Homo sapiens: one gene and its partners. The protein of the gene in region 3 interacts with the protein of the main gene of each other region in a pairwise test. Each region holds a gene or a part of one and is shown on either strand. Other genes may lie near its edges. The genes, in order: FCHSD2, ZNF134, MFAP1 and LMNB2.

Evidence for each region.
Region 1: the proteins of MFAP1 (region 3) and FCHSD2 interact in binary tests that used the Homo sapiens proteins (3 or more experiments, as listed by UniProt).
Region 2: the proteins of MFAP1 (region 3) and ZNF134 interact in binary tests that used the Homo sapiens proteins (3 or more experiments, as listed by UniProt).
Region 4: the proteins of MFAP1 (region 3) and LMNB2 interact in binary tests that used the Homo sapiens proteins (3 or more experiments, as listed by UniProt).

What each region holds. Positions count from the first base shown.
Region 1 is NC_000011.10:73,139,055-73,147,367, reverse strand, and holds the start of FCHSD2 (F-BAR and double SH3 domains protein 2), read left to right. Parts: upstream 1-5,049; 5' UTR 5,050-5,490; coding exon 5,491-5,511; intron 5,512-5,883; exon of another isoform or gene 5,884-6,147; intron 6,148-7,239; coding exon 7,240-7,337; intron 7,338-8,313. UniProt on the Homo sapiens protein: Adapter protein that plays a role in endocytosis via clathrin-coated pits. Contributes to the internalization of cell surface receptors, such as integrin ITGB1 and transferrin receptor.
Region 2 is NC_000019.10:57,609,489-57,617,476, forward strand, and holds the start of ZNF134 (zinc finger protein 134), read left to right. Parts: upstream 1-4,753; 5' UTR 4,754-5,015; intron 5,016-7,988. UniProt on the Homo sapiens protein: May be involved in transcriptional regulation.
Region 3 is NC_000015.10:43,807,413-43,814,912, reverse strand, and holds part of MFAP1 (microfibrillar-associated protein 1), read left to right. Parts: intron 1-224; coding exon 225-412; intron 413-1,555; coding exon 1,556-1,664; intron 1,665-1,765; coding exon 1,766-1,926; intron 1,927-4,998; coding exon 4,999-5,158; intron 5,159-7,500. UniProt on the Homo sapiens protein: Involved in pre-mRNA splicing as a component of the spliceosome.
Region 4 is NC_000019.10:2,446,519-2,454,018, reverse strand, and holds part of LMNB2 (lamin-B2), read left to right. Parts: intron 1-7,500. UniProt on the Homo sapiens protein: Lamins are intermediate filament proteins that assemble into a filamentous meshwork, and which constitute the major components of the nuclear lamina, a fibrous layer on the nucleoplasmic side of the inner nuclear membrane.

The DNA of each region.
Region 1 (8,313 bases), on a different chromosome or scaffold from region 3:
GTCCTAGGATCAGCAGTTACTTGTTTATGTGGCTCCTCAGCCCTTGCAGACCATTTACCTGTTATTTCATTTAACCTGCACAGCCCTCCAAGAGGAAGACAGGATGGAATTTATTATTCCTATTTTATAGATGTAGAAACCAAGGTTGAGAGGACAGTGATGCGCTAGAGGTCACACTCAGTGAGTACCTGGCAGAGATAGAATTAGCACCGTGGTTTCCTGCCTTGTAATGTTAAAACCATGTGCCTATCAGCTCCTACCATAGCCCTGGGACTGACTGCTCATTTACCGTACACCCCCACCCCTGCCACCCAAAGTTGTAATATTCCCTGGTAGGGGCAACACTTGACAAGATAATTCCTGGTCCCAGTGCCTGCTTCTTAGGGACTTGCCTCTGGCCTTAGATCTCTGCTACCACCTGGTAGGATCTGGGTCCCTATGACCCTCCTGGCCCTGCATGTTTCACTGCTGTGACCTTGGTCTCTGTATTGAGATTGGGAGCTCCTGGTGGGCAGCTCCTCACCTCAGAGACCTGCTTATGACTAAGCCCAGGATAAGGGCTTGTTGAGTGATACTATGGAATTCAAGGCCTAGTGCCTTGAACAAACTCACTATGTGTCTTAAGGAGAGCCCCTGCTCTCTTCTGGTGGCCACCAATCTTGAAGTCTCATTTACCTGTGCTGGGATTCTGTCCTGAGAGCTGATAGTGGAAGAGACTGGCACACTCTCACATCAGGCTGGCAGGAGGCTGGTGTTGAGGGAATTAGCTCAGGGAGCAAAGGCATGGGTAGGGAAAGGTGACTAGGGGTAGGAAGGAGATGAATGGGGATGGGGTCCATAGACCACACTGTCTGCCGCAGCATCCCCAGCTGGACTTGGTGGGGCCCAGGCAGGGAATAGCTGGCATCCAGACGTGCTAACAAGTATTCCTGAGCAGTCTGTGTCAATGCAGGTGGGGGATAATGACACAGAGGAAGACAGAGTAGAGAGAGCTGATGGACCCCAACTGCAGGAACGGTCAGGGATGCTTTGGTGCAGTGTGGGCAGGGGGACTGGCAGCTACTTTCTCTGAAGAGAGCCTTTGACGAAGTCAAACTGTCCTAGGTGCGTGCTCTGGATGGGGAGTAGTGTGCTACTCATGTTCTGGCCATGCTAAAGGGCCGCTGTATACTTTGTCTCCCTGCCAGTTTTCCCAGGAGCCCTGGAATATCAGAACAGCTGATCTTCTGATACCCATTCATATACCTGCTCCAGGCCAGTTTTTGATCCTAGCTCTGACTTAACCTTAGAATCATATTCCTAATGAAATGGGAGACTGCACTGCAGCATGCTGGAGGGAGAGCACAGCTTCAGAGCCAGGGGCCAGCCCTCCCTTTCCTTCACTAGCTGTGTGACCTTGGGTAGGTCATTTCACTTCTGAGCTGCAGCCTGTGCAATGGGGTTATATGTATTATGAGGAGTTGTTGTGAATGTTGGAAACAATGTAAATAACACGCCTATTTTAATGTCTGGAACATGGAAGAGGCAAAATAAATGGCAGCTGTTATTAATTTCTTTTCAGAGTGAGATCCCATCTGTGGTCTCCTTGATGGAAGGGAGCCAGAACCTGTTTGCACAGCCCCAGGGACAGGGAGCTCACTCCTTCCAGGGGTAGCTCTGCCTGGAAAAGTTCCTTCCTGAGATGCAGCTAACACCTGTCCCAGTTTTGTCTCTGGGGCCATAGTGCCTGCTGCTCTGCACCATTTCCCCAAAGAATCTCAAGCAATGCTACTGGCAACACAGCGCTTGCCTGCATTGCAGGAGCAAGGCTCTGGAAGTCCCCAACCCTGTTCAAAATGGTACATTTCAAGTCAGGCTTACATAAGTCACAGAAATCCCTTCCCTGGTCCCCTAGAGTCTGGAACATAATGGATTGTATCCTCCTGGGTCTGCTTATTTTCCTGCGTTAGGAACTCTCCCAATTCCTTTGAACATTCTTCATACACGAACATTCCTCATCGGACAACTGGGTTATGGTCTGAAGTCTATCATGTCAGGGCAAGTCACTTATCCCCACTGAGCCTCCAGTTCTCCATCAGTAAAAATGAAGAAACGAATACTATCTCATGGGTAAAGATTAGCTTGGAAAAGTAATATGAAAGTTTAGGGTTTGGAAGAGACACTTGGTAAGTATTAAAACAATTTTTTTAAATCACAGTTTTGAAATAGGAGTTAGTAGGTAAGCCCATCTGGTATTGCCCTTAGCTCTTTATAACACTTCCAAAGGAAATCATTCCAGAAAGTCAGTGCCACTCCTGGCTTCAGAACGGTGGCAAATCAGGTAGAGGATGCCCTCCTATATGCATAAACGAAATCCCCAGGGTCTGACTTCTTCTGTGAAGAGCCTCCTAAGTTCTAGGCTCACTCACTTATCTTATTCTGCAGGCCAGCACCAAGGCCCAGAGAAGACCCACTAGATCCATGGTAGAGGCTGGATCCCATGTCTCCCAACATCCAGCACCATTATACCCCAGTGCTCACTTCCTAAGAAGAGAGGTGAAGGGAGGATAATCTCTGGGCCAGACCAGTTGCACCCAAGACTAGGATTCAGCAAATCTTTGTTAAGCACTTGTTATGTGCATGACACTGCATCCGGGCCAAGTACTGTGTTACTCCTCTTCCACTAGCCCAGTGTCATTCAAGGAATGGTTGGTCTGGAACTCAGTCTTGGCGAAGGCTGATTCTATCTTGCTCATCTCTAGAACCCCAGTGCCTGGCACAGGCTTGGAACAAAGCAGGACTTTAGCAAGTATTTTTTGAATGAATGATGAATCAATAAGCACTTATTTTATTTTTTATTTTTTATTTTTTTTTGAGACGGAGTTTCGTTCTGTCCCCCAGGCTGGAGTGCAGTGGTGCCATCTCTGCTCACTGCAAGCTCCACCTCCCGGGTTCACGCTATTCTCCTGCCTCAGCCTCCTGAGTAGCTGGGACTACAGGCACCCGCCATCACGTCTGGCTAATTTTTTGTATTTTTAGTAGAGACGGGGTTTCACCGTGTTAGCCAGGATGGCCTCGATCTCTTGACCTTGTGATCTGGCCACCTCGGCCTCCCAAAGTGCTGGGATTACAGGCGTGAGCCACCGCGCCTGGCCTCAATAAGCACTTATTAAGCACTACATGCCAGGCCCTGTGGTAGGAGAAATTCTATTTAATACAGTAAGCCTATGAGGCTAGCATTATACCTCCATTTTACAAGTGAGGAAACAAGGCTGAAATAAGTGAATTGACTAGCTCAACGCTTCACAATAAATTGGTGGTGGAGCTGAGACTGGAGCCCAGCCTACGCTACCTATGGCCTGGGCTCTAGCTGCCACCCCGCAGCTGTCAGGGCCCTGGGCCTCCATCCACCTGTCCCCTTGCCCCAGGCCTTCCCTGATTTGATTAAGGATTCTGGTGAAGGGCTAACTTTTGAAGCCAGAAAAAGCAAGACTAGTCTCCTAGTTCATACACAGCTCTAGATTAATCTTATTCAAAACACAGCTCTGTCACTTTTCTGTACAAGAATCTAGTCTAACTCAATGTAAACAACCTGGGTTGAAGTTCCACCTTTTCAATTTCTGGTCATGTGGTCATCTGGGAAGTTACTCGTCTATCCAGGCCTCATTCACCTTCCTCTTAGGCCTGACTGCACTTCTGAGAACAGCTGTCTGGGATCTCAACTTCTGAAAAAACGGTGGAGTAATCCAGCTCAGCCTCCACACAGCCCCGTGACTCAAAAAAAAAAAAAAAACCTCCCTGGGCATGGGGAAGAGGTATTCCTCTTCTGAGGACCCCAAGGGAGGTCGATAAACTCCCCCGTAGATGGTCTGAACAGAGCAGGAAGGTTCATGTGTGGTGGTGGGGTGCACTGCTTAGATAAGCACCCTCACTGGCAGATAAGGAAGCCGAGCTCACCTAGCCTGTTAAGGAGCAGGCAAAGTGGACTGGCACCCAGAGATCCTGACTCCCAGACAAGGGCTTCCTCTATGGCCTCTCCTGCCTCTTCTACTTTTCCTCGTGCTTATTATCCTGCACCTGTTTCTTTTTTAAAATAACCCATAGAACACTTCCTGACGCAGATTCTAGTCCTGCTGTGTAACCTTTAGAAAGGCTTCCCTCTATGGGCACTTGCCTCCCCGTCTGTGAAACGGGGGCCTCGGCCTTAACGTTCTCTTGGCTCCCTCTCAGCGGAGTCAGTGATGTTTGACTTGAATGCCCTGCAGTAGAGTGCCGCCGTTTCCTTTGCAGAGCAACTGCCTTTCCGCCCTACAATCGCAATGGCCTGGCACCTGCGGCCAGCCGCAAAGCGACTTGTCCTTGCTCGCCTCTCTCGCGCACATCTAGCTGGTAGGGAGAGTAGGGTGTTGAGGGGCTGAGAGGAAGAAAACGCCGGAATTCTCGTATCCCACAGGCATGCTGCGCCCCCCTCCCCACTGCAAACGTTTCCCTGCGAGCGTCGTCCCCCGCGCCCCCCGACACACACACACACACACACACACACACACACACACACACACACACACACACACACACACGCAAAGGCAGGCAGGAGGCGGGGGCGGCCTGTGCGCGTGCGTCGGCGCGGAGCCCTCTCCCGCCCACGTGCGCGCCCCCGAGCGGAGACGCGCGCGCCGGGGCGAGCTGGCGGGAAAGCGCGCGGGAAGCCCCCGGCTGGCTCCCAGCGTGGGGGAGGGAGGGCAGGAGGCGTCTGGAACGTGCCACTCTCGGAGAGAAAGGGGGGATTTTCGCGTGGCGCTGGCGTTTCTACACCTCCCACCCACCGACCAATCCGTTAGCTTCCCCCTTCCCCTGCCGCGGTACGAAGCCCCGTGCCGTGGCCTAGCTCCCTCCTGGCAGCCCGGACCGGCCCCTCGAACCCCGCTCTGGACAGAGCGGTTCCCTCAGCATCCGGAGCGGGGCGCTGCGCCGCGCGGCGAGGCCGGAAATTCCCGCGGCCTGAGTGGTGGAGCCCTAGCGGGGAGAGCGGCGCCACCTTCCTCCTCCCGGGCGGGCGGGGGCGTTAGGCCCAGCGAGGGCCGGGCCGCCTGAGTGGGTGGGGTGGGGGCCGCTGCGTCCGCCGGGAGCGGCGGCGCAGGCGGCCGACCGGGAGCGCGGACAACGCGGCTGCGGCTAACCCGCCGCCCGGCCGGCTGAGACCCTCGCGCCCCTGCTCCTGGGGCCCCCGCCCCCTCGCCGTCTCCGCCTCCTTCCTCACACACCCCCGGGCCGCCCGGGCCGCCCGGGCCCCAAGCCTTCCCGGTGCTCCTCCCTCGTCTCCTCACACTCGCTCTCTGGCTGGGGTCCGCCTGCCGCCCGCTGGCCTGCTCCCTCCGGGGCAAGTCTTGCTTCTTAAGCGCTCCTTTCACACACGCGCGCGCTCGCTGGGCCGTCCCCTCCTCTCCGGCCCTCCTCCTCCTCCTGGTCCTTGCTAACGCTGCCGTCGGGGAGGATTGATGTCCCTTCAGCATCATGCAGCCGCCGCCGAGGAAGGTAAGGGCGCAGCTGGGGGGCTTTGGGGTTCGGAGAGATGCGTACGCGGAACGCGGCTGGGGCGACCGCTGCGCCCCTTCCCCCTCCCGCAAGGGGCCGTGACCGCCCTCGTCTTGGGCTTGTCACCGACTTGCCGCCGGCTCCAGGTGGGGGGCGCGCGTGTGAGTTGCCTTTCCGACAGAGGGGCCGCCGGGGCTCGTCCGTCCTCTAACGCAGGAGACCCCCAGACATTTCACAAGAGTTTCGGGTGTGCATTTGTGTGTGTGCGCGCGCATGGCAATGCTGCCCGCTGCAAAGTGCATTCTCGGGGCTGCACCGAGGGGGAGGCGGGGACGCCCCTGCAGCTTTGCAGAGCCTTGTGCGTGTGTGATTGTTTAGTCTGCACCAGCTTTGAGCCCTCCAGCCGCTTGTCGCCAGCCCCGCCCGTTTGCAAATTTGCGGGGGATTTGTTTCTAGCCTAGCCTTAGGGTTTGGCCTGCTTTTCCCACGGGGCGGCCGAAAAGAAGTTGGAATAGTCACCGCCTCCCCACCCCAAGGGAAAACAAATTAAGGATTGACGGGTCCTGCCTCGTCCCCGGCTGAGGGGCGAGGAGGCTGTCGTGCTGTCTTCAGAAAAGCGAGGACCGGGCCCGGGAGGTGCGTGGGGTGTGCACTGCGATCCGGGGTTGGATGACCAGGGTGGGAGTGACGGATGCACCCGGCTTGTCATCAGTCTCCCCGCTGCGCCCTTCCCCAGCTTTCCCAGGGGCCGAGGCTGTGTCCTTGTCTTTTTAATCCTACAGATGGATACTGAATGTCTACTCTGGGCACTGGGTGGATGAGGCCGTTCTGTCCTCCCCTCGTGGGCAAACATTTGCCTAACGCCTAACTCACCCGTGTCTGCTGCCGCTGCTTTCTCTCTTTCCTAATCCGGGTTTCTCCATTTAAGTGAGTCCTTTTCTTTCGAACATGTACCCCCACCCCTCCGGGTGGTCCCACTGCTGAGGCCGAGATTCCAGACTGACCGTTAACTTCGAACCCTGGGGCCCCGGCCTGGCGGGCGAGGCTCTCTGGCCAGCAGGCATTTGCTGTTCTCCGCTGTTTGAAGTGGAGCCTCCACGGGGATCGGCTTCCCGGGGTAGTTTAAAAGCACTGCATATGCTGGAAGGTCACTTTTGCTTTCTCCTTTGTGAGAAAGAGATTGTGATTTGATGCGCTGTCAGCAAGTCGAGGGCATCATTCTGAGACAGTGTGCTTTTTCGCAGCCATTATGGAGTAATTTATGTAGTCGATTCAGGCATATTATCATGATTGTGTAAATATTGGTCATTGGGTATCAGGCACTCTTAGGCTCCCAGCCCCCATCCACACTCTGCTCACCTCTCCTGGTGGTTAATGTCTTTGAATCTTTTTTAGAAATAGAAGACAGGCTCTTTTAAAACTGTAGGAAGACCTAGACGTGGATTGAGCTTGTGCATGAAATGGAATGACTGGCAGTTTATTTTGCACGTCTTTAGTTTGTAATATTTATAGTCGTGTATTTTCATTTAACCTCTGTTCAGGCTATTTGGCTTTAATTTTTCATTAAATAAGTATCTTCAATAAATAAAACTAGATGGCGAATATTGGATTTATGGCCTTCAGGGGAGAGGCGAGCAAGAGACATATTCTGACAGATGTATTTTCCTGAAGCAATTTTTTTGGGTTAAATTTGTAAAAAGACCTTCATAAATATATGGTATATTTTAGGTGAAAGTTACACAAGAACTGAAAAACATTCAAGTTGAGCAGATGACAAAACTTCAAGCCAAACATCAAGCAGAATGTGATTTGCTTGAAGATATGAGGTAAGGCTATAGTAAATAGTTCAAGGACTTCTGTTTGTCTGTTTCAAAGAACCTTTGAGTTACCAAGCCCCAGGAACTGATGATGGAATTTCCTTTTGGATTTCCTGCTTTAAGGCTGTTAGAACTTTGACTCAGCTGGAAATTAGAACTGGAACTAACACAATACAAACTTTTTCCTTCAGTGGGGGACCTATAATGCACACATAGTATTCAGAAAAAACAAGGACCTTAAAAGTCTTACTAGTCAAATTATAATAATTAAAGATTCTTGTTTAAATAATCTTTCCACGGAATTGTAACAATCATTTTATTGACCTTAACGGTTTTACACAGTTAGATTTTTAAACCAACACTTGTGGTTAATGGTTAATATCTGGGGGTGAGCCAGTCAACCCCAGATGGTTATATGCTCTCACTGGGTTAGAACATGACAAATACAACTTTGTTTTTGAGTGCCAAATTTAGTGAGAAGTGTGTTTATCATATTTTATTTTATTATTGAGGTTACTCATATTCATAATCAAGTTAACTTTGAATAGCTAAGACATCTTGCTAATATTGTGAAAATCAGTATCTTTCTTACTAGAGGGATGGATGACTTATTTTAATGAAAGAAATACCACTTATTTAACAATCTTGTAATACAGACTGACAGTTCAACAAAGATTTTCGTCAAGAATGGAAGATGATTTGCATGGTGAAGCAAGAGTGGCTGCAATTCTTATTTCCCTTGTATAATACATTTATCAAATTGGAATTGGGTCTGTAAGCCTCATCAGTTACCTAGTTTTCTGGTGGTACACTAACTTCGTGTTGGTTTCATGAAAAATATTAACTCTGGTGTTAATGATAAAATTATGTGTTTGGATTGCTGTTTATAGCCCAAAGATTTTAGTTTCAAGAATTTCCTTTTTTCCTCTCCTATATTTAGGCACTATAAGCATTTCTGCTGTATACCTGTCTTCAGGGTTTATGA
Region 2 (7,988 bases), on a different chromosome or scaffold from region 3:
AAGTAAAAGTAAAAGCTGGGTGTGGTGGCAGGCACCAGTAATCCTAGCTACTCAGGAGACAGGCAGAAGAATCTCTTGAACCTGGGAGGTGAGCCGAGATCGCACCATTGCACTTCGGCCTGGGCAACAACAGCGAAACTCTGTCTCAAAAAAAAAGTATCCACAAATGTTCCAGTGACTATGACTGCAAGATCACTGTGTGCAGAAATCTCTAGAAATGTGTGTCTTGTAGCTCAAGTTATTACTAGAGACAACAAGGGTTTTGTGGATTCCTGTAGCCTCTCTGGCCTGTTTACTTCAAGGCCATTGCTGCACAGACAAAAAAAAAAAAGGATGAAGTCAAGAGAGATTCGGTTGTCCTTGGTGCGGCTTTTGTGATCCAGTAGCAATCCTCTTAACGCTGATGGAAATGGCCTTCATTGCTCACCTGTATTTCCTGCCACTGAAGCAGGTCTGCCTCTACGTGGCCTGGGGAGCTAGATGGTAGAGTCAATAGAGACTTAGTAAACCAGACTTTTTGAAGTGTCAATGACCAAGATTGTTATTGCATCCATTAAAAAAAAATCAAGTTATAATTGATGTGGAATAAATTATATATATTTAAAGTGTACAACTTGATAAGTTCTGACATAAATGTAAACCCATGGAAGCATTGTTGTAATCATAAGAATGAGCATATCTCACCTGCATATTTTACTTTTGCTCTTTTATAATACATTCCAGAATATGCAGGCAACTTTTAACATTCCTTTACAATTGATTGACTTGAATTTTCTGGAATTTTATTTTAGACATCATAAAGTGTGTATTTTTTTGTGCTTTTATTTATAAAACTTCCCCTTAGGTAAGGGCCTGAGGTTAACTTTGGAGGTGACAGATATGTCCAACACCATTGATAGGGTGATGATTTCAAAAGTGTACATATGTGTGTGTGTGTGTGTGTGTGTGTGTGTGTGTGTGTATACTTACTGTTTTAATATGTGCAGTACATTGCATGTTGATTACACCTCAATGAACCTATAAAAAGTTATTCCATTTAAAAATCTGGGCCTCCCACTTCTATTGGAAACTGGACAACTTGACAGCCTGCAGTGTTTTGAAACAGCATGGATTGGGTGTCTTGTTTCCAGCATATGTCCCATGTTCCCCAACACTGTTCCTCAGGAAACAGGGAGGAACAGCTGTTCCTCAGGACCTGCTGAGTGGCCATATTCCCTGAAGGCCAGAAAAGTAACAAGGTGACCGTTTTGGACAAAATTCTGAGCTTAAAACCTTGCCTGAATCAGTAGCCCCCAAATTCATTGTGCACATCTTATAATTTCCAAGAACACACATATTAAGTGAATATTTTTATGTTTATAATTGTGAAATGGTCTGTTCAGGGCTGTCATTCCTCAACCTTTTTTTTCAACCACCCTCTCATTAAGGAAGCATATGTATTAATCATGGTTTCTGTTTTTTGTATTATATGTCTTGACATCTTAAAATTCTTGCTGGTGACAGAGAGACTTACCCTACCAGAGGTAGCTAATTTCTAAAAATAGTAAACAACTACCTTGAGAGCAAGGCAAGCCAACTACCCTCTTTATCTAACTCTTACTCACCAAGCCAATACTTTCCCTGCACTAAATCATCCCAGCGTTACTGCCAGTGATTTTGCAGCAGTCTGCAGCAATTTTGGTCCTTGCCTCCTCAGAAGAAAATTCAACCGAGGAGGCAGAGGTTGGCTTAAGGCACAGGAAGAGACCAAGGCAAGTTTTTTTTAGCAGGAGTGAGAGTTTATTAAAATGTTTTAGAGTAGGAGTGAAAGGAATCAAAGTACACTTGGAAAAGGGCCAAGTGGATAACTTGAGAGGTCAAGTGCCCCACTTGATCCTTGGCTTGGGACTTTATACATTTGCTTATTTCCCAGGCTCTTTATTCTCCTTCCTTCGGTAGGCTGTTGCTTGACTACTGCATGCACAGTGGTCTGCCAGTACTTGGGAGGGGCCGCATGCAGTTTGTTTACTGAAGTCATACATATACTCATTTGGGGTGATCTTCCCTTAACAAGTCATGCACCCCCAGAGGAAGGTCAAATACCAGTCAAATTTTGCCATCTTGCCCCATTTTGTGCATGCTCGAAACCTTATCAGGGGTTGTGGTTCACTGGCTCCAGGTGTTTTCTATCTGTTGGAAAACTCTTTTCCCTCCTGGTACCAATCATGGCCACTTATCATCTCAGAGGGATAGTTTTATGCTTTCCTGTCCTTCACCCAATGAGAGCTGGACATCTCGGGGGTCCCTCTCTTGTTTTGTTTATTATCTCAGAGGAAAAGATTTATGATTGCCTGTCCTTGACTCCAAAATTGCCTGACATTCCTGGGGTCCCTCTCTCCTGCCCTACTCTTATCTACCTACTCTAACACCAGGGTGAGGGTATGAGGCAACTAGAGACCACCCCTGTAAATCGAAGCCAACCAGAATTATTCAGACTAGCCAGTACTCAGCTGTTTGCTCTGATCTGGCCTAGGCTTTCCCCTAGCTCTTGCTTCTTCCTTTAGACTGAAACCTGTTCCTCCTGTGGCCCTGCATGGCATACTGTACTTCCCATTTCTAGGGAAATTCTGAGTAACATTAAACTTTTATTTCACTGGCATTGAGCTCTCCATGTCCTTTTCCAATAAAGACCCATCCACAAATTGGCCTCTCTTGGCTATGTAATATTACATATCTTTCCAGCACTTCTCAATGCCTTCACCTTCTCTTTTCTCCATTATGCCTGCCACATTCTAACATTCCATATAATTTAGCATTTTTTTCATATTTCCTCCTCTTTCTTGAGTACAGCGTAAGCTATTGGGGTCTGTCTCTTGTTTTGTAAATGTCCCATGCAGTTAAGATAGTGTCTGAAATACAGTAGGTGTTCCTTGAATATTTCTTAGAACTATGAATAAGCATAATACTACAGCATCCCTGTTCACCTTAATATTCTGATAGCACTTTCTAAATGTTTTCTTTACTTCTCCTTCCAGGTATTATTGAGTGTTTTCAAGAATGAAAAGAGGCCTGGCATGGTGGCTCACATCTGTAATCCCAACTTTTTGGGAGGCTGAGGTGGGAGGATCCCTTGAGCCCAAGAGTTTGAGGCTGCAGCAAGCTATGATCGTGCCACTACACTCCAGCCTGTGCAACACAGTGAGATCCTGTCTCCAAAATTAAATAAATAAATAAAATTACATTTTGGAGACTAAACGCTGCTTGTAGTCATAGTTCTAACACAGCTGTGTGCTCAGCTTCATTTGCTCACTTCTCAGAATTCAATGTCTCCTGCTCAAATTTTGCTGTCATCTTAACCGTTTTCACTTATCACAGATATGTTTCTCCAGGTCCATTTCGTCATGTATCTGTGAATAACTACAGAATTATTAACTTTGAGTAATTTGGCCGGGCGCGGGGGCTCTCCTGTAATCCCAGCACTTTGGGAGGCTGAGGCGGGCAGATCACGAGGTCAGGAGATCGAGACCATCCTGGCTAACACGGTGAAACCCCATCTCTACTAAAAATACAAAAAGTTAGCCGGGCATGGTGGCAGGCGCCTGTAATCCCAGCTACTCCGGAGGCTGAGGCAGGAGAATAGTGTGAACCTGGGAGGCGGAGCCTGCAGTGAGCTATGGTCGCACCACTGCACTCCAGCCTGGGCGACTGAGCAAGACTCCGTCTCAAAAAAAAAAAACACAAAACAACTTTTGAGTAATTTAAACAATTCACAAATGTTTTTGTCTTTCTTTCCCCATACACTCGCCCTTTTCTTTTTTAAAACCATAAATAAATCTCAATTCTCAATTCAGACACTGTCGGTGTAATTGCAGGTGAAATGAGAATCACCTCCCAGCCAAGAAATCTGATCCCAATTTTCCAAATCTTTATTTCTGGGTTCAGACACCACATTTTCAGCCCCTGTCTTGGCATATAAAAGCATTTATAATGGTTCTTCTTTTCAGATAAGAAACATCACCAAAAGGAAATAGATATATCTCAACTTTTGGGCTAGGAACTCTCATTTGGATAAAAGAATATTTCTCCTTTGGTTGGACATTAGTGACCATACAGGCAGGAAAGGTGCCTTCCTTGACCACCTTCTCTCGCCTGTCTTCCTCCTCATGGTTCTCTCAGGTATTTTTTTTCTGAGGAAACCAGAGGAAGAGCTCTATATTAGTCCACTTGCCTCAGGGAGCTCCAGCATCCCTCCATAGCCACTGTCTGGAGACCATTCTTCCACTCCATGGCCCTGCCTGGGGACAATTCTCTGTTAACTCTGACCCAACTGAGGCTCACAAAACTGACTCAAAGCTTCCCTCTACAGTACACATATTTTTTAAATGAAGGAAATTTGACTGAACTATGAGTGGACTCAGAGTGACATTGGATGTTGTGTGTCCATTTGGTGGTGTGGCTTCAGGGAACATCTGTAAGAATATATCCCAATATTTCGGGGATCCCTGCAGACCTCACTACACAAGACCTGGTTGAGGGTCCTTTAAAAGGAGCGAAGCCACGCCCTGACCTCAGAGTCTCAGGGCATAATTTCTCAGCGCCCCTCGCAGTACCATTTGGCCTTTGCCCAGCGTGCAGGGGAGTTAGCCGTCACCACGGCCAAGTGCACATGAGAACTGCATTGCCCAGAAACCTGTGCGCCGCCCGGCGGCGGCACTCTTAGGGGCGTCTCCCTGCGGACGGAAGCTCTCTGGGCGGGACTTCCGGTATCTTCCTCGCGGTGGACATCTTGTCGGCTCTTAGGTGGAACCATCGGAGCAGAAGCTCGGGGTTGCTGGGCGGTTCCGAGGTGACGGAAGCGGGAGGGTGCGGGAGAAGTCGCTGTTCGCTCTGCGGAGTGGCTCGCCAGCGAAGACCCCGCCTGCGCCCCCGGGGACGGACGACCGCGGTGCCAGGGTCCCGCGACCTGGGACCCCCTCGCGGCTCCGGGTGGTCTACGAACTGTGATGGCGGCGGCCGCGGTGATGGGCCCGGCGCAGGTGGGTGCTGCCTTTCCCAGACTTTCGCCCGCCCCAAATCCTGAAGTTCCAAATGAGGAGCGCCTGTCTGAGTCCCTGCAGCGCAGGCCCCAGTGTCCAAGGCAGCGGGGCGCTGGTGGGTGGGGGCGAGTGTGACTGGCAGAGGGGCAGCCTGAGCATAGGTTTGGAGCTGGACTGAGCCCGTAGCAGTCGGGAGCGTGTGTGAACCGTAGTCAGGCCTGCAATGTCGAGGGGAGAAGTTGCTCCTTCATTGCGAGGACGATAGGAGCCATGGCGGGTTTTGAATGGTGGAGGGAAGGGATCCGAAAAAGGATTTTTAAAGTATTCCAATGTTTGCTGAGGAGGAAACCGACTACAGTGAGGTAGAAACGATGAGGATGGAGGCAAGGAGACGTTTGAGGAGGTCCCTGCAACAAACTCCAGAAGTGTTGCGGTGGTGGCTGGGCCAGAGCAGTGGCAGGAGGGGTTGGGTGGGGAAGTCATGAGATTCTGGGTAGATTTTTAAAGATGGAACCAATGGGGTTTCCTGCCGCATCAGATGTGGTCGTGAGTGAATGTAGGGAGGAAAGGGCTATCCAGGGTTTTTTTGGCCTGTTTTCCTTCCTGAACGTGTGAAAGAATGGAAATTGGTAAGTCACAGCAGGGAGCACGTTTCAGGGGCATCAGGAATTGGGTTTTGGACTTGGTGAATCTAAGGTGTTCTGCACTGGAGGTTCATCACGGGTAGCTGAACATGCAGGTCTGGGGTTCTAGAGAGGGAGTTGTGCTAGAGACTTCAATGGGTGAGGCATAAGGTCAAAGCCTGTAGTAGATCAGATTTAGAGGGTGGAATTTCAAGGAAGTTATTTTGTGTGGTCTCTGAAGTGAGAGGTGGGTTTAGGGTGGAAGGCCAGGGATGAAGGGGTGGACACTTAAGATTCCTTCCAGAAAGGAGGGGTCCTGGCATGTGAAAGCATTCTAGATGGTGTTGTTGGAAGTCAATGCTTGGTGCTGCAAAGTGAAACCAGCACTCAGGCAAAAGTTTTCTCAGCAAGGCAATTTACTTCTGTGCAAGTGTGCTGCCTGTGTTAATCACGATCCCAAGAGCACACTGAACAAAGGAGGGAAGGGGTTTTTATCTCTAACCCATAGTCCCTACCTTCCTCTGTGTCACTCCCCCATGGGCTGGGGTCGGACCGCTTAATCTAAGCTGAGCCAATTGGGTATTTGTGAGTATTTTCCAAATAAGGAAGAGGGAAGGGGAAGGTGAGTTACAGTGGTGGGACATGTGAGTTGTGTAGGACGTGTGGTTTTGGCGGGGGCAATGGGTGCAAAGTGAGTAAGGGAACAGATGTGAATTATTGGTTAGTGCTTACAGGAAGGTTGTTTATAGTAACTAGGGGCAAGGAGGCATGGAGAACAAGAAAGGTTTGAGAACAAAGAACAAGGAAGTTAACAGGCTAAACCTTTGAAGAGGAATTTTATTATATCTTATAGTGTCAGCAAGAGGAGAGGGCTGTAGAGCATAAGTAGCCTGGCCTGCACTGGAGACCAAGGTGAGGGATGCAGTAGGTTTGCCACCCTACAGGCTCAGCATGCCTTCATGGGCGCTGCCTGTGGAGCAGTCCCATCCCCAACCAGTGCATTGGTGCCTCAGTTACCCAAACCCTCAGGTAAGCAGAATTGATGAACATCTCTAATGAAGGATCACTGCAGCTCCCCTTCAGAGGAATATGTATCAGGTAGGCTGGTTTAGTGCAAGGGCTAGTGTACACCTTGCAAGTACGCAGAAGGAACTAAAAAATGTATGTACAAAGTAAGGGAAATTTATACTAGCACTTAATGATTGGTCAAAATATTAAGTTGCCTTGAAGTATTTTATTACAATGGAAAAATCTTAACCAAATTTTCTTAAAAGCTTTAAAGCAGGCAAAACAAACCTAATTTTTCAAAAACTCATCAGTTCATTTGCATGGATAGTAGTAGCTGTTTCAAAGGCACTTGAGATGTACAGACAAGCCTGATACAAACAGTAGCCCTATGAGGTGGGTGCCATTATTATCCCCACTTTTAAGATGAGGACACTCAGACGCTGGTCTTTATGTTCACACAGCTGGTGGGAGCCAGCACTGAGATCTGAGTATCTGAAGTTAGAGAGGTAACCCAAAATCATTCCTGCCAAAGGGCAGGGTAGGCAGGGCTTAGGGAAACAGTTCAGTCGATGAGATCCCACTGTGGGAACCTGCCACTCCCAGCTTCCCTCCTCTTGTGAGGTTGCCATGGTGGCAGAAACTTATGATTCCTACCTAGATGAGAGTAGATTGTCTCAGGCCCTCACTTAGCCCAACACACCCCCATTATCTCAGCAACTCAGTGTGGAGAATGATAGTGTTCTGGGACTCTTCAGTGTCCCTTCTGCCTACCGTTCTTGGAGGTCCTGCAGTCACCCAAAGCTCTGTGTTGTAAATTCTGTTTTGGAATTATGTGGAAGGGTTTCTATTTCTGGCAAGCAATGGGATGAAATGTGGAACATTATCTCAGGCATAGGAACCAGCATGTGCAAATACTTAACTTAAGGCTAAACTAGGAGTGTTCAGGGAACCTCAGGCCTCCATTATGTCTGGTGGGATCAGACAGCAGGGACAGGATTCAGCCCAGAAATGGCAGCCTGAGGATCTGGGTTTGTATGCTGAGAGAATTGGGAGCCACTGCAGGTTTGGAGCTAGGAGGGAGTGATCTGACTTTGGTCTTAACCAACTTCCTCTGTACAGTGAAAAAAGACTGTGGGAGTGAGGATGAAGGAAGGAATACCACTGAGGAGCTTAATGCAACAGTTCAGGTTGGACCAGAGTGGTCGCTGTAGAGGTGGGAGATGTGGATGGATTCTGAATCATTTTTCTTAAAGTGGGACCAACCAGATTTTCTGATGTGGAAGATGAGAAAGAAAAGGCAAGGGGTGAAGGAAGACCCTGGATTTTTTAGTCTGAGAAGATA
Region 3 (7,500 bases):
GGATATAAGAAAAAGTTCATGCCAGTGCTCATTTGTTGAAGCCTTAAAAACATGAGATCACTGCTTTGGCAGGACTCTGATCATGTTCCTTGTTTGTGGGGATAGGATTAAAAATAGAATGATACTAAGTTGTATCTTTTTACATTTGAATTTGTTGTGTTTGATGAGACGAACAAAAAGCCATAGGCCATTTGACTGACTGGCTTATATATATGACTTGATAGGAAATAGAGCGGCGGCGTGGCATGATGCGTCAGCGAGCACAGGAGAGAAAAAATGAAGAGATGGAAGTCATGGAAGTGGAAGATGAGGGTCGTTCTGGAGAGGAGTCAGAATCAGAGTCTGAGTATGAAGAGTACACAGACAGTGAAGATGAGATGGAGCCTCGCCTTAAGCCAGTCTTCATTCGAAAGTAAGTATCTCACAAGCCAGATCTGAATCCACTTAATTACCACTTTCCAGGCCTGGAGACAAAAGTCTGTTTTCTGTCTTGCTATTCTGAAATCTAAACGCTGAGTGAAAGTGCTTTTGCTAGTGCTCTACCCTTGGCAGACTAGCTGCTGAGGAATATCTTGGCGTTAGCAGAGAACCTGAGTTTGTTTTCACATCTCTTTTTTCAGTAATAGAGCATATATCTGTCCAAGGCCTTTTTTTGTTTGTTTGAGACAGAGTTTCGCTCTTGTTGCCCAGGCTGGAGTGCAATGGCATGATCTCGGCTCACCACAACCTCCACCTCCTGGTTTCAAGCAGTTCTGCCTCTGTCTCCCGAGTAGCTGGGATTACAGGCATGCGCCACCACGCCTGGCTAATTTTGTATTTTTAGTAGAGAGGGGGTTTTTCCATGTTGGTCAGGCTGGTCTCGAACTCCCAACCTCAGGTGATCCGTCCTCCTCAGCCTCCCAAAGTGCTAGGATTACAGGCATGAGCCACGGCACCAAGCCAAGGCCATATATTTTTAAGCACAAAATTAAACTCAACGAGCAAATTCCTATTCCTTTCCTGATGGCTAGAAATCCTACTGCTTAGAGGCCAGCAGGTTCTTTGCTGTCTAGGCAGTTCTCAAAGATGAACATGATTTTAGTCCTCTAAAGACCTGGGATGATGGCTGGGCACGGTGGCTCACGACTGTAATCCCAGCACTTTGGGAGGCTGAGGTAGGTGGATCAGGAGGTCAGGAGTTCAAGACCAGCCTAGCCAAGATGGTGAAACCCCATCTCTACTAAAAATACAAAGAAATTAATCAGGTGTGGTGGCAGACTCTTGTAATCCCAGCTACTCAGGAGGCTGAGGCAGAGAATTGCTTGAACCCAGGAGGCGGAGGTTGCAGTGAGCCAAGATCACACCACTGCACTGCAGCCTAGGCGACAAGTGAGACTCCGTCTCAAAAAAAAAAAAAAAAAAAAAGACCTGGGATGACTCAGCGTTTTTTGCTCTTTGAAAATAATAGAGCCAAAGATTGTTTGGTTTTTGTCTGATTTGGATGGGACTAGGTCTAGGGGAACAAAGCACTCCACTCTAAGGACTTTGGGCAATTAACAGGATCTCTGTGATGCAGGAAGGACCGAGTGACAGTTCAAGAACGTGAAGCCGAAGCATTGAAACAGAAGGAGCTGGAGCAGGAAGCAAAACGCATGGCTGAGGAAAGGCGCAAGTACACACTCAAGGTACTGGGGAGTGGTTGCAAGGAATGAGTACAAGAAATAGTGTAATCAGGTTTGTCTGAGGAGAGTAAGGAAGTCCAAGCTGAATTGTTCTCCCTATCCAGATTGTCGAAGAGGAAACCAAAAAAGAGCTGGAAGAGAACAAGCGATCCCTGGCTGCATTGGATGCACTCAATACTGATGATGAAAATGATGAGGAGGAATATGAGGCATGGAAAGTTCGAGAGCTAAAAAGAATCAAGAGGGACAGAGAAGATCGAGAAGCGTGAGTAAAAAGATGAGCCTAGAGTTAATGCTGCTAATGGAACAGGTTTCTAGCAGGATAGCTCTGAGACTCATTACCTACTGTGAGTTCCATTCTAGCCACCTTCAGAGTTCTTGTTGCTTTGTGAGTTTCCTATAATTGGAATATGAGTTTCACTTGCTACAGTGAAATCAGGGAAGAGAAAAACACTTTGTCGATGTGTGTCCATAATAGAGTGCCAGCCAGTGCTCCCTTTAGTTTCCTAGTAGACACAAAAATTAGTAACTGTTAGTAGTTATCTCTTCTTGTGTACAACCCAACCCACAATTGAGTGACTTGAAACTATAATTTATTACTTTTCACAACTTTGGAGGTTGGCTGAACAGTTCCTCTACTGATTTCACCTGGGCTTACTTATGTAGTTGCATCCAGCTGGAAGGTTGACTGGGCTGGAAACTTAAAAGGGCTTCACTCACATGTTAGTAGTAGGTGGTGGCTATCAGTTAGGATACCTCACTTATCCTTCACTGGATTAGACTGGCTTCCTTACATAGCAGTCTCAGGGCACCATTCTAAGAGGGCAAGGTCTTCTGACATGTCGGTTCCAGAACTCATACATCGATCTTGCCACATACTGGTCAAAGCAAGTCACAAGGCCAACCTAGCTTTAAGCAGGTGGAGAAACAGACTCCACCTCTGCAGAGGAGGAGCAGCAAAGTCATACTTTTTGAAAAGGGGCATACATACTGTGAGGGGAAGAATTTGTGGCACTTAAATAATCTACACTGTGTTAGAGCAGAATCTTTTTTTTTTTTTTTTGACATGAAGTTTCACTTTTCACCCAGGCTGCAGTGAAGTGTCACAATCTCAGCTCACTGCAGCCTCCGCCTGCCAGGTTCAAGTGATTTTCCTGCCTCAGCCTCCCAAGTAGCTGGGATTACAGGCATGCGCCACCATGCCTGGCTAATTTTCGTATTTTTAGTACAGACAGGGTTTCACCATGTTGGTCAGGCTGGTCTCGAACTCATGATCTCAGGTTGTCCACCCAACTCGGCCTCCCAAAGTGCTGGGATTATGGCATGAGCCATCATGCCCGGCCCCAGCAGAATCATTTCTGAGCTGCATCACTCATTCCTGTAAATTACTAGGTATGAGAGGGTAATCCCAGATTACAAAGGAAACCATCAATAGATAACTCTAGGCTGGGCGTGATGGCTCACACCCATAATCCCAGCACTTTGGGTGGCTGAGGCAGGCGAATCACTTCAGGCTGAGAGTTCAAGACCAGCTTGGCCAACATGGTGAAAACCTATCTCTACTAAAATACAAAAATTAGCTGGGTGTGGTGGTGTGTGCCTGTTATTCCCAGCTACTCGGGAGGCGGAGGCAAGAGAATCGCTTGAACCCGGCAGGCAGAGGTTGCGGTGAGCTGAGATCGTGCCACTGCACTCCAGCCTAGGTGACAGAGTGAGACTCTATCTGGAAAAAAAAAAAAAAGAAAAAAAGAAAACTTGCCTGAGTATGAGCTACACACAGTAGATAACTCCATACTCAGCCTGTAATTTTTTGTTTTTGGTTTTTTTTTTTTTTTTGAGACACAGTCTCACTCTGTCGCCCAGGCTGGAGTGCAGTGGCGCAATCTTGGCTCACTACAACCTCCACCCCCTGGGAGTCAAGCGGTTCTCCTGCCTCAGCCTCCTGCGTAGCTGGGACTACAGGTATATGCCACCACGCCCAGCTAATTTTTGTATTTTTAGTAGAGGTGGGTTTTCACCATGTCGGCCAGGCTGGCCTTGAACTCCTGACTTCAGGTGATCCACCCACCTCGGCCTCCCAAAGTGCTGGGATTACAGGCATGAGCCACCACGCCTGGCCCTCAGCCTGTAGTTTCTAAGATTTTTATCCTGGACCTGTAGGAGTAGGAGTCTAAGTGCCCTTTAAAATTGTACACAAGGCCGGGCGTGGTGGCTCACGCCTGTAATCCCAACAATTTGGGAGGCCGAGGTGGGCGGCTCACAAGGTCAGGAGTTTGACACCCGCCTGTCCAACATGGTGAAACCCTGTCTGTACTAAAAATACAAAAATTAGTCGGGCATGGTGGCACACACCTGTAATCCCAGCTACTCAGGAGGCTGAAGCAGGAGAATAGCTTGAACCTGGGAGGCAGAGGTTGCAGTGAGCCAAGATCATGCCACTGCACTCCAGCCTGGGCAACAGAGCAAGATTCCATCTCAAAAAAATATAAAATTGTACACAAAATTGTGTGTATGTATGCATTTTATTTGGAGACAAGGGATATCACTCCCTCTCCCCAACACTGGCTAAAAAGTTACTGCAATCTGGCTGGGCGCAGTGGCTCACGCCTATAATCCCAACACTTTGGAAGGCCAAGGCGGGCGGATCACGAGGTCAGGAGATTGAGACCATCCTGGCTAACACGGTGAAACCCCGTCTCTACTAAAAATTCAAAAAGATTAGCTGGGCATGGTGGCGGGCACCTGTAGTCCCAGCTAATCGGGAGGCTGAGGCAGGAGAATGGCATGAACCCAGGAGGCGGAGCTTGCAGTGAGCCAAGATCACACCACTGCACTCCAGCCTGGGCGACAGAGCAAGACTCCATCTCACCAAAAAGAAAAAAAAAAAAAAAAGTTACTGCAATCTAATTAATGATGGTAATCTTTGGTTTATGACATGCAAGCACCTATATGATTATGATACACTTACATAAAGGAATACCAGCAAAGCCTCAGACACTTATTTTAAATTCACTGATTTTTTTTTTTTTTTAAAGCTAAGAAGACCTTTTAGGGAAAGAGAATTTGTAATGTTGGAAAACCCAGCAGTAATAGTATGTCTGAACGTCAGAAGGGCTAGAATCAACTTTTGAAAGTTGGCAATACCTAGTCTAGCAAACATAATGAAGACTAACTCACCCATTTGTTTATTGAGCTCCTTATCTTGATTCCTAATAGGCAATGACTAGAATTAAAGAAGGTGACTAATACTTGAAATGACATGGGACTGTTATTTTCAGATAATTTGGTCTTTCTGAAGCTGTAACAGTACCAATAAATTGTTTTGCTCCCTGGACAGGCTTGAGAAGGAGAAAGCAGAAATTGAACGCATGCGAAACCTGACTGAGGAAGAGAGGAGAGCTGAACTTCGGGCAAACGGCAAAGTCATTACCAACAAAGCTGTTAAGGGCAAATACAAGTTCTTACAGAAGTATTATCACCGGGGTGCCTTCTTCATGGTAAGAAGTGAAAAGAGAGTCAGAAAATTGGGCAGTAGGAATAACTCAGAAACTTTGAATTATTTTTCTCTTCAAGAATATTCTGGAATGTAATTTCCACTTGCCAGTGGTCAGCTTTCTCATTTGCTTTTTCCTTCTGAACAATATAAACTCAGAGAAAAGCATCAGCAATTGGATGACAGAAGTAGCATCAACTGTTCTCTCTTTTGGCCCCAACTCTCAAAAATAGGAAATGATGTAATAGACTTTTTTTTTTTTTTTAAGAGACAGAGTCTCGCTGTCACCCAGGCTGGGGTACGGTGGTGCGATTATAGTTCACTGCAACCTTGACGTCCTGCGCTTTACACCTGCTTCAGCCTCCAGAGTAGCTGGGACTACAGGCATGCAACAACCATGCCTGGCTTTTTTTTTTTTTTTGGTTATTTTTTTTTTAATTTTTCGTAAAGACCAGGTTTCACTATGTTGCCCAGGCTGGTGTTGACCTTCTGGCCTCAAGCAATCCTCCCACCTCAGCCTCCCAAAGTATTAGGAATACAGGCATGAGCCATCATCCCCAGCCTTAGATAAATTGAGGAAATGAAATAGAGAAGTGATCTGTACAGATAGTGGACTAATTAGGTCCTCCACATGACATAGTTGTCATTCTTTCATAGCTGAATGAGAAGTTTTGGTTATGTGAAAACCAAACTCTGCAAATAGCTTTACATTAATTCACTTTTGGGTGGCAGAAAGTTAGTTCACTTCATTCTGAACTGACAGTACCCAAGAGTAACTAACCAAAAAAAATGGTTTATTATCTAACCATTAGATGGAATGCCGTCATCTTTGTTTTTCATATAAAGACTAAGATCAAAATAGCAATCTGTTAACCCTGTATGGTTTATTTCCTAATGTTAAAGCAGTTTGCACCAAAAACTAGACTAGCTTTTTCAAGTGCCGTGTGGCAAATTCTAAATATCCCCACTGCAACTAAATTCCTGCCTTTCACTGCAGATGCTGTTAAAACTTCAGTGGCGGCTTCCCTGCCACCCTCCAAAATCAGTTTCAGGTCTATCTGATTAGCAGGAAGTGTTTACTTAGGTAGTTTTCCAGCAGATGTAGCTTACTATTCAGTGGAGATTATGAACTACTTCTTGTACTGCTTCGGTCATAAAGTTTGTTTGCTTAAGCAGTTCGCAGCTTTAATAATCAAGTTTCTTAGAGAAGCAGTTCATTGCTAGTTAAGATACATAAGAAAAGTGTATGTGAAAGTCCTTTGGTGGGCCAGGTACATTGGCTAATGCCTGTAATCTTAACATTTTGGGAGGCAAGGCCAGCAGATCAGTTGAGCCCAGGAGTTCAGCCCGGGCAACATGGCAAAACCCCATCTCTACAAAAAATACAAAAATTAGGCGTGGTGGTCCGTGCCTGTAGTGTCACCTATCAAGGGGCTGAGGTGGAAGGATTGCTTCAGCCCGAGAGGTTGAGGCTGCAGTCAGCCGTGATCGTGCCACTGCACTGCAGCCTGGGTGGCTGACCAAGACTTTGTCTCAAAATAAATTGTTTTTAAAAAGTCTTTCTTAAACAAGATAGTGCTATTTTTAATTCCTTCAGCATATGTGTTTATAAATATGTATCACAGCATTGTAATATTATCACTCAGGCTAGAGTGCAGTGGTGCAGTCATGGCTCACTGCTGCCTCATTCTCCTGGGCTCAAGCAGTCCTCCTGCCTCAGCCTCCTGAGTAATTGGGACTACAGGTGTGTGCCACCACACCTAATTTCTATTTTGTAGAGATGGGTTTTGCTATGTAGCCCAGGCTGGTCTCAAACTCCTGGGCTCAAACTCTCCTTCCACCTTGGCCTCCCAAAGTGCTGGGATTACAGGCAAGAGCAACTGCATCCAGCCTTACTAATGTTGTTTATTTCATTGAGTAAGTAAGCTTTAGTGCATATACTATGCAAAGGTCACTGTTTAGCACTGTTAGCGAGAATACATAATCACTATAACATAAGTAAAAGTAAAGTACTGTAGGGGTTCTGACGAGAGAGATGTTATATTTGGTAGAAGATTGAAAGGGTTGACGTAAAGGTTGTAACATTTAAGCATTTAAGATGTATAATTTTGGGCCGGGCGCGGTGGCTCACGCCTGTAATCCCAGCACTTTGGGAGGCCAAGGCAGGCGGATCATGAGGTCAGGAGATTGAGACCATCCTGGCTAACATGGTGAAAACCCATCTCTACTAAAAATACAAAAAATTAGCTAGGCGTGGTGGCGGGCGCCTGTAGTCACAGCTACTTGGGAGGCTGAGGCAGGAGAATGGCGTGAACCTGGGAGGCGGAACTTGCAGTGAGCCGAGAT
Region 4 (7,500 bases), on a different chromosome or scaffold from region 3:
GCCTGGCCAGTCCCCTGCTTTTCAATTAGTGTGGCTTTGGGCAGGCCCCTGTGTCTCTTGGAGCCTCCATCTTGCCATCTGTCCAGTGCGGAGTTGTCCCAACTTAGAGGCCGCCTGCTGGACCCGTGGCGTGCAGGGTTAGAGCTGGTTTCTTGTCTTTGGGCCTCTGTTATCCCACCTGCCAATGGGACGAACAGCTGCAGGGAGCTTTGAGGGTGCAGGGCCTGGTGAGTGCTGGGGAGGTACCAGCCCCAGCCCCACTGGACGCCCCATTGGACCGGCCCTGTGCCCTAGAGGGAGCCTGGCCCAGCCACCTCTCGGGGCCGCAGCAGCATCCTTTACAACTCAGTTCACTCAGGCTGGGTGAAATGCGGGTCTGACTCCAGTGAAGGCAGCCATTTAGCAGGTGACACACTGGCCCCTCCGTGAGCCCTGTCACCCAGCCGTGTCTGCAGGGCATGTGGCAGGGGACAGCTGGGAGTTCCGCCTGCGACTAGTGGGCCAGGAACCCGGCTAGTGGGGAGCAGAGTTGGAAGCCTGCTGGGGTGGGGGCCGCTGGTGGGGGGACGTCATGTGGGCCCACATGGAGGGAGTGACCTGGAATAGCTGGGGGCCTTCTAGACACAGGTGGGCCACGTGGGGTTCAGAGAGCAGCCTCAGGCTCAGGCTGGCAGGATGGGGGCAGGGGAGGGAGCTCTGAACGAGGAGGGACCTGGGGTGTCAGGCCTAAGAGCATGCAGGTCACCTGGACAGCAGGGCCTCTCTCACCTGGCCAGCTTCTGCCCCCAGGGGACTCTTGGCCAAGGCTGGGCATGCCCTTGGTTGTCACATTGGGAGGGAGACGGCATCGGCACAGCGTGGGTGGAGGCTGGGTACTGCTCAGCGCCCCGAGAAGAGAATCACCTGGCCCCCACGAGGATGACGCAGCCCTCACGAGGATGACCCAGCCCCATGAGGATGACCCAGCCCCCACGAGGATGACCCAGCCCCCACGAGGATGACCCAGCCCCCATTAGGATGACCCAGCCCCCATTAGGATGACCCATCCCCCATTAGGATGACCCAGCCCCCATGAGGATGACGCAGCCCCCATGAGGATGACCCATCCCCCACGAGGATGACGCAGCCTCCATGAGGGTAACACGGCCCCCATGAGAATGGCCAGGCCGAGGAGCCTGCTGGGAGGCGTGAGGGACTCAGTTCAGATTTTTTCAGGCTCATAACACGACTCACAGCATCCTGGTGTGTGGCGGCCCCCGAGGTCCTCACACACGCCTTTCTCACTTCTTTTTTGAGATAGAGTCTCACTCTGTCGCCCAGGCTGGAGTGCAGTGGTGTGATCTCGGCTGACTGCAACCTCTGCCTCCCAGGTTCAAGCAATTCTCCTGCCTCACCCTCCTAAGTAGCTGGGATTACAGGCGTGTACCACCACACCCGGCTAATTTTTGTATTTTTAGTAGAGATGGGATTTCACCATGTTGGCCAGGATGGTCTCTATCTCTTGACCTTGTGATCTGCCCGCCTCAGCTTTCCAAAATGCTGGGATTGCAGGTGTGAGCCAGTATGCCTGGCCTTTTTTTTTTTCTAGACAGAGTCTCTCTCTGTCGCCCAGGCTGGTGTGCAGTGGCGTGATCTTGGCTCACTGCAACCTCTACCTCCTGGGTTCAAGGGCTTCTCGTGCCTCAGCCTTCTGAGTAGCTGGGATTACAGGCGCCCACCACCATGCCCGGCTAACTTGCTCACTTCTTTCCTGCCCGCAGGAGTTCACCCTTGCACACTCGTACAAAACCAGGCCAAGCATGGGTTCCACATTCCCATGTGACACTAGGGGGTGTCTTTTGGCGGTGTGGATGAATCGCCATATACAAGCATCGTTGGAGGGCTTGGGAAAGGGTGGGGTGGGGGCTGGCCAGATGGGTATTTGTTGAAGGAGGATCACTGAGTGCTGGGGGCGGGGGCAGGTGCAGGGAGGCCGCGCTGTGGCCCGTGTCCAGGCGCGGGAGAGGCAGGTACTCCAGGTACTTCCCTGCCAGGCCTTACGTTCCCGAGGGAGGAGACCTGGCTTCGGCATCTTCTGTCTTCCCCTGCCCCGGTGTCCCCTGGCTGCTCAGGGCTGCTGGAGGGGGTCTCGGAGGCGGCCCAGGCGAGCGTGGAGGATGGAGTCCACTTTGGAAGTGACCCCAAGCCGGTGTTTGCATTTTCTGCACAGGGCTGTAGTTCTTAGCCGGGCCATTTTGTCCCACCGTGGCCTCCTCCAGCCGAGTTATGCTGCTCTGTGTGTCCGAGGGGTCCCAGGCAAAGGCCATCTCAGGCTATCTGAGCCCTGCCAGGCCCACATGTGTGGACACACTTGTTGACTTCCCTCAAGCCTAGCACTTGCTAGATGCCGTGAAAGATGAAAGAAAAGGCCCAGCCTGTCCCCAGCCCTTTGCAGCGCCTCACAAGCACAAGGAGGCCGTCCTGCCCCGGCACACCCGTTCCGCAGGCTCAAAGGGTCTTTGTGAGGTGCCCCAGCCTCTAGAACTTTCCTCATCATCACAGCACGGCAGACCAGGCATGGTCAGCAGACTTTTTCTAAAAAAGGCCAGACTGTCTGCATCTGAACCACTCAGCTCTGCCATAGGATGAAAGCTGCCTTAGCCCATAGGTGAATAAGTGGGTGCTGCTATGTGTCAATAAAACTTTATTTATACACATGGAACTGTGAAGTGCATAGAATCTGCCTGTGTCACAAAGTCTCTTCATCTTCCCCCCTGGCCTTTATCGTTTTTGTTTTTGAGACAGTCTCGTTTTCCAGGCTGGAATGCAGTGGCACAATCTCCGCTCACTTCAACCTCTGCCTCCCGGATTCAGGCGATGAAGCGATTCTTGTGCCTCAGCCTCCCCAGTAGCTGGGATCACAGGTTTGCACTGCCACGCCCAGCTAATTTTTGTATTTTTAGCAGAGATGGGGTTTCACCATGCTGGTCAGGCTGGTCTCGAACTCCTGACCTCAGGGGATCTGCCAGCCTCTGCCTCCCAAAGTGCTGGGATTATAGGCATGAGCCACCTCTCCTGGCTACCCCTAGCCATTTAAAAATGTAAAAACCGTCTGGGCGCAGTGGCTCACACCTATAATCCCAGCACTTTGGGAGGCCGAGGTGGGCGGATCACGAGGTCAGGAGATTGAAACCAGCCTGGCCAACATGGTGAAGCCCCGTCTCTACTAAAAATACAAAAATTAGCTGGGCGTGGTGGTGCACGGCTATAGTCCCAGTTACTTGGGAGGCAGGAGAATCGCTTGAACCCGGGAAGCAGAGGTTGCTGTGAGCTCAGATCATGCCACTGCACTCCAGCCTGGGCAACAGAGTCTTGCCCTGTGCTCGCCCAGGCTGGAATGCAATGGTGCAATTTTTGTGTTTTTAGTAGAGATGGGGTTTCACCATGTTGACCAGACTGGTCTTAAATTCCTGACCTCAGGTGATCTGCCCGCCTCAGCCTCCCATCATCTTATGCCAGGTGCGGTGGCTCATGCCTGTAATCCCAGCACTTTGGAAGGCTGAGGCAGGCTGATCCTCCTGCCTCAGCCTCCCAAAGTTGTAGGACTGCAGCTGTGAGCCACTGCTCCCAGCAACATCCATCATGTATTCAGACTTCCTCAGTTTCCCCGATGTCCTTTCCTGCCCCAAGACCCCATCCACTATCTCACGTGACATTTAGTGACTACGTCACTGTCTCCCAGGCTCCTCCAGGCTGATAGTTTCCCCCACGTTCCTGGTTAGAGGTTCTGGTTGGTCCTGAGCGGGCTGGGCAGGTGTGCAGTAGGATGTTCCTCAATGGGGGTTTGTGTGTTGTTTTGCTCATCGTCACGCTGGGGCGATGGGATGAGTAATGTTTTAATGGAATATATATATATATGTGTATATATATATGTATATGTATATGTATTTTATTTTCTTTTTTTTGAGACGGAGTTTCACTCTGTTGCCCAGGCTGGAGTGCAGTGGCGTGATCTTGGCTCACCACAACCTCCGCCTCCCTGGTTCAAGCGATTCTCCTGCCTCAGCCTCCTGGGTAGCTGGGATTACAGGCATACACCACCATGCCCGGCTAATTCTGTATTTTTAGTAGAGACAGGGTTTCTCCATGTTGGTCAGGCTGGTCTCGAACTCCTGACCTCAGGTGATCCAACTGCCTTGGCCTCCCGAAGTGCTGGGATGACAGGCGTGAGCCACGGCGCCCAGACATATGTATATTTTTTTTGAGACAGGGTCTCTCTGTACCACCCAGGCTGCAGCGTAGTGGCGTGATCTCAGCTCACTGCAACCTCTGCCTCCCGGGTTCAAGTGATTCTCCTGTCTCAGCCTCCCGAGTAGCTGGGATTACAGGCGCCTACCACCACACCCAGCTAATTTGTGTTTTAATAGAGACAGGGTTTCACCATGTTGGCCAGGCTGGTCTCGAACTGCTGACCTCAAGTAATTCGCCCGCCTCAGCCTCCCAAAGTGCTGGGATTTCAGGCATGCACCAGCGCACCGGGCCCTAATGGATTATCTTTTAAAAATCAATTAATTCAAAAAATCTACAATGAACAAACTATTAATTCAAGTCAGGTGTCGTTTAGTGACAGGGATACCTTGTGGAAAGCGTGTCGTTAGGAGACGTGCCCCTTGTGTGGGCATGGTAGAGTGCACTCCCACACTCCCGGATGGTGGAAGCCACCACACACCCAGGCTTGGGCGTGGCCTCCTAGGCCACAGACCCACACCGCCCGCTCCTCTGTGGAATGCTGTGGGCACCGGTTACACAATGGTAAGTATGTGAGCATTTAAACACGAGAAAGGGCTGGGTGCGGTGGCTCCCGCCTATAATCCCAGTACTTTGGGAGGCTGGGGCAGGCAGATTGCTTGAGTCCAGGAGTTTGAGACCAGCCTGGGCAACATAGCAAGACCCCATCTCTTAAAAAAAAAGTTAGAAACTAATTAGGCAGGCATAGTAGTATGTGTGCCTATAGTCCCAGCTATTGGGGCAGCTGAGACAGGAGGATTGCTTGAGCCCAGAGTTTGAGGCTGCAGTGAGCTGTGATTGCGGCATTGCTCTCCAGGCTGGGTGTGGCTCTGTCTCAAAATAAGTAAATAAACACAAGAAAGGTGCAGTAAGAATATGGTATTAGATTCTTTTTCTTTTTATTTTTTGAAGTGGAGTCTGGCTGTCGCCAGGCTGGAGTGCAATGGCCCAATCTTGGCTCACAGCAACCCCTGCCTCCTGGGTTCAAGCAATTTTCCTGCCTCAGCCTCCTGAGTAGCTGGTATTACAGGTGCACGCCACCATGCCCGGCTAATTTTTTTGTATTTTTAGTAGAGACAGGGTTTCACCGTGTTAACAAGGATGGTCTTGATCTCCTAACCTCGTAATCCGCCCACCTCAGCCTCCCAAAGTGCTGGGATGACAGGGGTGAGCCCCCATGCCAGGTTTGCATTAGAGTCTTACAGGACCGCCGTGCACATGGTCTGGGGGTGCTCAGCATGCCTCTGTGCGTGTGGCTGCCATTGCAGAGTTGCTGTTTTTTCTCACCTTGAACGGGCTCCTGTGTGTCCCGGCGCTGATCTTGTCTTTGTTGGAAACTCTGCTGTTTTGTTCATCCTGGCCCCTCTGCCTCGTGAGCCGCAGTCAGCTCTCTCTCTGTGGGGACAGGAGAGCTCGTGTGTGACCCCCATCCTGAGGGTGTCCCGTCAGCCCCTCCCTTGAGGTTAGGGGTATTTGGGAGCTTTGAGGGAGAGGCAGACACCACCATGCCTGCACCTGGTGCCCAGCTGTTTGCAGCGTGGAGCTGGCCGCTTTTTCCTGATTTGGGTTTTTCTAGAAGTCTGTTCCCAGGACACAGATGTGGAGGGCACGGCCCAGATGATCGCCTGCATGGGAGGGAGGGCTTGGGGGTGGCCGGGGTGCCGCGGGAGGAGCTCGCTTTGCACTGCTGCCTCTGTGGGTCCCCGTCCTACAATTGGTCCCCGCAGACCTGATATGTCTAGGACCCAGCGGTGGTCAGGAGGCGGCTTTTTACTGACCCGTGCCTCAGTTTTCCCATACATAAAATCAGGTTGGGAACCCTTATCCCGCCCCACTGTAGGCTGACGGGACTTGGAGCTGCGGTGCTGGGGCAGCCTGAGACTCTGACTTGTCCAGATGGCCCAGCATGCGTTGGTTTGAGGCTGAGGGTCCCACCTCAGAAGAGGCCCGGTCACTGCCAAGGGGTGCGTCCTGGCAGGCCCCCAGCCCTCTGCACAGGAGCCTCGCCTGTAACATGGGGGTGTGGCCCTCCAGATGCAGGCCGACCCTGTACCCACCTTGCATAGACACCCTTGGCCCTGTAGGGCTGTGGGAACATCACGGCGTTCTAGCGGGTGGTGCTGGGCCTGGTTCCGCCTACCATCCTCCGGTCCTCCTTTTCCTCAGCGCCAGAGCCGGAGCAGTTAATTCCCGCCTCATAAGGTTCACCCAGCTCACCCGTAGGTTTCGCGTTTTCATATCTCCACAGCTGTGCCACCACCAATGTGTCCAATTTTAGAACGTTCATCCCCACTAAAAGAAGCCTGTCCCCCTCAGCGGTCACTCCCCGTCCCCTTCTCCAGCCCCGCTGCCCACACACCCGCTGCCTGTGTCTGTGCACTGGCCTGACCTGGACATTTCATGGAAATGGGATTACACACTGTGTGGCGTTTTGTGTCTGGCGTCTCATGAGTGTGACATCCTCAAGGGGCATCCACACTGTGGTGTCAGAACCTTGCTCCGTTACACAGCTGGGTCATGTTCCTGTGTGTGGATGGTGGAGGGACCGCATTGCTTTTATTTTTTTATTTATTTTTATTTTTCATTTTATTTATTTATTTATTTATTTTGAAACTGAGTCTCGCTCTGTCTCCCAGGCTGGAGGGCAGTGGTGCGATCTCGGCTCACTGCAAGTTCCACCTCCCGGGTTCATGCCATTCTCCTGCCTCAGCCTCCCAAGTAGCTGGGACCACAGGCGCCCACCACCACGCCTGGCTAATTTTTTGTATGTTTTTTTAGTAGAGACGGGGTTTCACTGTGTTAGCCAGGATGGTCTCGATCTCCTGACCTTGTGATCCGCCCGCCTCGGCTTCCCAAAGTGCTGGGATTACAGGTGTGAGCCACTGCGCCCGGCACCATGTGTAGTTTTCAAACATGCATGGATGTGAATTTCATGTCTTCTGGGTCCACACCCAGGAGTGGAGTTACCGGGTCACAGGGTGGCTCTGTGACTCTTGGGGGAGCCCCTGGACTGTTTTCTGTAGAGCTGTCTCAGCTCAGGTTCCTGCCGCTGCCTGTGAGGTTCCGATTTCTCTGCGTACTCGCCCGCACCTGCGACTGTCTGTCTTCTTGACGGACGCCCTGGCTGGTGCGAAGTGGCATCTCACTGCGGTTTGCTTCCACATATTTTTAAACTCACTGAGTGCATGGCCCTGTGGGAGGAGGGGAGGCAGGAAGGCCACTAGAAGCCTGAGC